Linked DNA regions of Homo sapiens: region 2 is reported to be linked to region 1. The links are microRNA targets in miRTarBase. Many come from high-throughput screens and were not tested one by one. Region 1 holds a microRNA gene; the other region holds the end of a gene's coding sequence.
The links. Region 1 holds the annotated microRNA hsa-miR-3200-3p (CACCUUGCGCUACUCAGGUCUG, at 1,206-1,227, opposite strand). A microRNA usually pairs through its seed, bases 2 to 8, with sites in the 3' UTR of a target mRNA and lowers its output. Matches are read on the target gene's strand: a 7mer-m8 pairs with bases 2 to 8, a 7mer-A1 pairs with bases 2 to 7 and ends in A, and an 8mer does both.

Region 1 (3,000 bases):
AAAACAATGGAATGGCCTACTGGCTTAGCGGGGACACCGAGGGAGAAATACCCCTCAGGTTTGAGCCTCTGTCCTCCAGGATGCCTTGAGCTGACAACTGATATCTGGTGCCATGTCCCCCACAGCTACAGCAGACAGGTCCAGGAGTGGCCCTGCTCACCATCACGCATGGTTGCCCTTTGCAAGGTGTGTGCTTCCCATCCTCACACACTTGGGATCAGCTGGGTTAGAGGATCTAGTCCTGGGGTAAGGGAGGAATGTGAAACAAAGATTCCACTGATCTGGACACTGCCACAACCACTTGGCCACCTACGGCTCCTCATGCCAGTGACCAACAAAGAGGGGAGTGACTCTACTGCCAGGGGAGTGACTCTACTGCCAGGGGAGTGACTCTACCGCCAGGGGTCACTGATCCTAATTGCCATGAGGAATTAGGTGAGTGGCCCATTTGGAAATGGGAGGAGAATGTCTGGAATAAAACCCAGAGGACTCCTTGGGATATCTCTTATTTTTATTTATTTATTTATTTTTTGAGACAGAGTTTCACTCTTGTTGCCCAGGCTGGAGTGCAATGGCGCTATCTCGGCTTTCTGCAACCTCCGCCTCCCAGGTTCAAGTGATTCTCCTGTCTCAGCCTCCCGAGTAGCTGGGACTATAGGCACCCGTCACCACGCCCAGCTAATTTTTGTATTTTTAGTAGAGATGGGGTTTCACCATGTTAGTGAGGCTGGTCTTGAACCCCTGACCTCAGGTGATCTTTCCACCTTGGCCTCCCAAAGTGCTGGGATTACAGGCATGAGCCACTGTGCCTAGCACCGGTATCTCTTAACATTTCCATGATTGGTAACGGCTGATAATGAGCAAGGCCAACAACACATGCAGACCACTCAGCGCAAACATCACAGACCAGCCAGAGTGCTGGCGGAGAGTGGAGAGGGTCTAGGGTGGGTAGTGCAGGAGGGAAATGATGAGTAACAATGAGCACACCAGGACCGGCCACAGCAGCAGCAGATGACCTTGTTTCACAACCTTCTTGCTTTATTCTTCCTGGTAACCCCAGTGGGCCAGCACCAGGAAATGGCTTCTGTCACTGATGGGATTTGTACCTTCCTGCTCAGGGAAGGAATGAGGATGTTTTTGTTCTCCAAGGAAAACGGAGATTCCCACATTGAAGTAGGAGAGCTGATATCATGGGAGGGCACGAGCAGACCTGAGTAGCGCAAGGTGTGGACTGTATTGGACACAAACCTTGTGCGCCTTCTCAGATTCCCTCGACCACCTCCTTCTTTGTCTCTCTCGATGATGCCTCATCCAGGTCACGCCGTACCTCCACTTCTGGGCTTGTATGAAATGCCACCGTGGAAAATAGGATATGAAAAGAACAGGTCAGATGAATCTCCCCCCACTCTTCCCTCCACGGATGGCTCTGAGGTGTATTTTCTTCTTGTGTAAGTTCTGGAAAAGTCCATGTGCCAGGCAAGCATGCTTGCTGAGCGACCCACCGTGTCTCTGTAGCTCGCTGTGAAGTCTCATCCAGCAAGGGAATGAGCTGGGTGGTCACTTTGATCTCTCCTCTGCCACTTGCCATTGCTCCTTCACTGCCCTGGGATTGCACCTCCCAAAGTGTCAGCTCTTTATTTTTCATTTATTTATTTATTTATTTGAGATGGAGTCTCACTCTGCCGCCCAGGCTGGAGTGCAGTGGCGCGATCTCGGCTCACTGCAACCTCCACCTCCTGGGTTCAAGCGATTCTCCTCCCTCAGCCTCCCGAGTAGCTGGGACTATAGGCGCCCGCCACCACGCCTGGCTAATTTTTTGCATCTTTAGTAAAGACAGGGTTTCACAGTGTTAGTCAGGATGGTCTCGATCTCCTGACCTCGTGATCCACCTGCCTCGGCCACCCAAAGTGCTGGGATTACAGGCGTGAGGCACCGCGCCCGGCCAGCATTAGCTCTTTAATCCCTGCCTTGGGCTATGTTTTCCAGAAGCCCTTCCCCAAAAATGTCCATGGGAAAAAAAAAAAAAATTATATATATATATATATATATATATATATATATAGAGAGAGAGAGAGAGAGAGAGAGAGAGAGAGAGAGAGAGAGAGAGAGAGAGAGAGAGACAGGGCAGCGAATCTGAATCCAGATGCACAGAAAGACCAAAAGCTACCACTCTGGAGCAAAGTACTTAGTCTTATATGGAACTTCCATTCAATGCAAGCTCAAGGTGACCCTGATTCACTGTGAAATTCCCATCCAACCTTCTGCATTCTAATTCAGCAAGCACTTCCTGTGGGCTACTATATAAAGGAACTGTGCTAGAAACTGGGGAGGGAGTAGATACAAAAATAAATACGACACATCTTTCTGGCCTCAATGGTCTAGCTTGGGAAGGACACAGGCCTGTAAATGACAAGCCACTGTTTGTTAACAATAAGTGGGGGGAAATAAATTCAAAATAAGGGAGGTGCTCACTCCATGAAAATTCACTAGCTACATCCTCGTAATTGACCAGTTTTTCTGCATGTATGTTATACTTTTATACTTTATAAAAATTGGCTTTAAAAGCAAACTCCAGGCTGGGTGCGGTGGCTCGCGCCTGTAATCCCAGGACTTCGGGAGGCCGAGGTCGTCAAATCACTTGAAGTCAGGAGTTTGAGACTAGCCTGGGAAACATGGTGAAATCCCGTCTCTACTAAAAATACAAAAATTAGTCAGGCATGGTGGCATGCGCCTGTAGTCCCAGCTACTTGGAAGGCTGAGACACGAGAATCGCTTGAACCTGGGAGGCAGAGGTTGCAGTGAGCCGAGCGAGATTGTGCCACTGCACTCCAGCCTGGGTGACAGAGGGAGACTCCATCTCAAAAAAAAACCCCAAAAAACAAAAAAACCCAGAAATTTATTATCTCACACTTCTGGAGGCTAGAAACCCATAATCAACGTGTTGAAGTCCACAAGAGCTGAAGTCCACGAGAGCCTGGCTAATTTTTGTATTTTTAGTAG
Region 2 (3,532 bases), not on the chromosome of region 1:
ATCAGCCTAGCGTGGTGGCGGGCACCTGTAGTCACAGGTACTCGGGAGGCTGAGGCAGGAGAATCGCTAGAACCCAGGAGGCAGAGGTTGCAGTGAGCTGAGATTGCACCACTGCACTCAAGCCTGGGCAACAAGAGCCCAGGAGTCTCTTGGAGCCCAGGAGTGAGATGGAGTCTCCCTGGCTCACTGCAACTTCCGCCACTGCAACCCCTGCCTCTTGGGTTCAAGCAATTCTCCTGCCTCAGCCTGCGGAGTAATTGGGACTACAGGCACGCGTCACCACGCCCAGCTAATTTTGTATTTTTAGTAGAGACGAGATTTCACCATGTTGGCCAGGCTGGTCTTGAACTCCTCACCTCAGGTGATCAGCCCATCTCGGCCTCCCAAAGTGCTGGGATTACAGGTGTGAGCCACCATGCCCAGCTGACAAAGGAAAACATTTAGTGAAGTGTAAATATAAAGTTTTTTAATCCAAGTCAAAAAAAATCTCCAAAGAATAAAATGTGAGGTGGGATGCAGTGGCTCACACTTGTAATTGCAGCCCTTTGAAGGCCACAGCAGGAGGATTCCAAGTCCAGCAGTTCAAAGTTACAGTGAGCTTCAGTGGTGTTACTGCACTCCAGCCTGTGTGACAGAGCAAGACTGCCTCAGAAAAGATAACATTCAAAAACAGCAGCGATTAGTGGTTAATATATAAGGATCATATATTGCCATAATATATAAAGACATAAATGGTGGGCCTAGGGGCTTGTCACACTAAAGCTGACTTGAAATTGACCATACTCAGGGATGTTATGGTGTAACTCTCTAAAACTAGAGATTTAATACATTTTTTTTCTTTCCCCCCAGAGTTTCACTGGTTGCCCAGGCTGGAGCACAATCGTGCGACCTCAGCTCACTGCAACCTCCATCTCCGGGGTTCAAGCAATTCTCCTGCCTCAGCCTCCCAAGTAGCTGGGATTACAGCATGCACCACCATGCCTGGCTAATTTTGTATAGTAGAGATGGGGTTTCAACATGTTGGACAGGCTGGTCTCACTCTCCTGACCTCAGATGATCCACCCACCTCAGCCTCCCAAAGTGCTGGGATTATAGGTGTGAGCCACCGTACCCAGGCGAGATTTAATACTTCTAAAACCAAGCCTGGTTCAGTCTAGACAGGGTACTGGTTCTCAGTCTTGGGTATACCTTGACATCTCCTGGGAGCTTCACAATTCTGATGTCTGAGTCCTATTCTGCAGTCTGACTTAATTGGTCTAGGGTATGGACCGGAAACATTTTCAAAAGCTCCAGGTTAGAACAACTCCTCTCTAGGTCTGGTACATTCCATAACTAGTCATGGAAGACACTAAGGGTAGTCCTTTTTGATACCAAGTGGAGCTTGTATTATACCCAACTTACAGGTAGAAACATTTATGGCTGAGTATTTGCAGATACAGATACATAAACACAAACCTTAATCTAAAAACCCTGTTTAGTCCACTTCCCTCCAAATTATTGTTCTAAACAAACACCCATTTTTCCAAAACGCTGGGTGTCACCTAAATAAACTCTTACACGTTTAGAAAGAAATGCTAACAACCTCCTACCTTAAGGCCAAGTCCCTTATTATCAGCGCTTTATGCCTGTTCAGTTGGCAAAAATTTACCACATTCTTCCATTCTCAAACTAGAGCTTGGAACATAAATTACACGATCATCCTGTTTGTCAAAACATTTTCATAGCAAAATACCTGTAGGTACCATCAACTTAATCATCTTCCACTATGACAGTAAACCTACATGGCAATTACTGTTGTTTTATAAATATTCAATTTACTCCAAATCTGTTAACTGCTAAAATGTACATACATAAACAAACTCACATCATTCCTCAAAATCCATGTGTGTGTCCAGGATCTAACTATATAGTCTATCTTAACTTCAATGCCTTTTTTTGGGGCGGGGGCGGGAACGGAATCTTGCTCCGTTGCCCAGGCTGGATGGAGTACAATGGTGCAATCTCGACTCGCTGCAAACTCCACCTCCCAGGTTCAAGCGATTCTCTCAGTAGCTGAGATTACAGGCGGTGCGCCACCACGCCCAGCTAATTTTTGTATTTTTAGAAAAGAGGAGGTTTCACCACGTTGGTCAGCCTGGTCTTGAACTCCTGACCTCATGATCTGCCTGCCTTGGCCTCCGAAAGTGTTGGGATTACAGGTGCCAGCTACCGCGCCCAGCCATTTGAATGCCTTCCTCACTCCAGGAGAAGCTACCATGTATAGCCAGTCATTGAGCAGTATCTACTATTATTTTTGGGACTCAAAACCCAAATAATACTTTTTGAGGCCAAAATTGTAAATACAGCAATTGGAAGATGCTGAAAGTCTGCAAACTCACAAAAAAGCAAGGATTGCTTTAAAAAAAAAATGCCCAGAGTTTCCATTTCAGAAAAGTGATGGTCAGGGTATGTCAAAAACACTGTAGAGGCCTGGGTGGGCAGATCACTTGAGATCAGGAGTTTGAGTCGTTTGGCAAACATGGTGAAACCCTGTCTCCACCAAAAATACAAAAACTAGCCAGGCATGACGGCAGGTGCCTGTAATCCCAGCTACTTAGGAGGCTGAGGCAGGAGAATCGCTTGAACCCTGGAAGTGAACAGGGAGACAAGCACTGCAAACAAATACTTTTTAATGGGTTTAGTTTTTTTTTTTATTTTTTACAAATATACTGGAGAATCATGCAATGCTGCCAGCATTGGATGCAATCCGGGGCCACAAGTCTGCACACTCCTTTGCTACTGGTCCTGTAATGGCAGAACCTGCATTAAAAAAATAAAATAAAATAAAATAAAAACATGTGGGGGACAGATTAAGACATCGTCAAACACAGAAGATCCTTGGCCTGTACTTCTAGACAATCCACCCAACCTCAGAGACCTAAGGAACAAGCTGGACTGATTTCCTACCTTTCATCTCGCCTTTATTGTTCACTATGACTCCTGCATTATCTTCAAAATAAAGAAACACGCCATCTTTTCTACGGTATGACTTTCGTTGTCGAATGACCACTGCTGGATGTACTGAGAGAAGAAAAAAGGACAGCAGTCATTAACCTGTCAAGTCGCAGTGCCACCACAAAAGCAGTTTCCAACTAGACAGAATGTACACTCAGCGTTTGAGACAGTGACAGTGTAAATATCAATCTTCAAGGTGATCCTCCCACCTCAGCCTCTCTAGTATCTTGGACTACAGGTGCACACTACCATGCCCAGATTTTTTTTTTTTTTTCATAGAGACAGGGTTTTGCCATGTTGGCAAGCCTGGCCTCCCAAAGTGCTGGGAGTATAGGGAGTAAAGGCATGAACCACGATCATCTATTCACATCTTAAAATCAAAGCTGCCAGTATTTTCTCACAAGTGTAAAACTCTCAGGACAACTATCCTTGCCTATGCCTTTTCCAACTTCACCTTACAGGTAGGTTATTAAGATCCCAGTATCACTGAATTGGGATGTAGAAATGGGACCTGGGACCCCCAACTCCTCCCAGTCCT

Region 2: miRTarBase lists RPL23 as a target of hsa-miR-3200-3p. Seed matches in the 3' UTR shown: 7mer-A1 at 1,186-1,192.

The regions. Positions count from the first base shown.
Region 1 is chr22:30,729,837-30,732,836 of GRCh38, reverse strand. MIR3200 (microRNA 3200) reads right to left here and starts at 1,280; the gene lies at 1,196-1,280. The region is part of intron 1 of OSBP2 (oxysterol binding protein 2); the gene reads right to left.
Region 2 is chr17:38,847,416-38,850,947 of GRCh38, forward strand. It overlaps RPL23 (ribosomal protein L23), which reads right to left. Exons shown (of 5, transcript NM_000978.4): 4 at 2,947-3,060; 5 at 445-2,799. The coding sequence ends at 2,717. LOC124903994 (a long non-coding RNA gene) reads left to right here. Exons shown (of 3, transcript XR_007065743.1): 3 at 850-875. Among named protein-coding and RNA genes, the nearest start is that of SNORA21B, 2.5 kb to the right of the region's middle.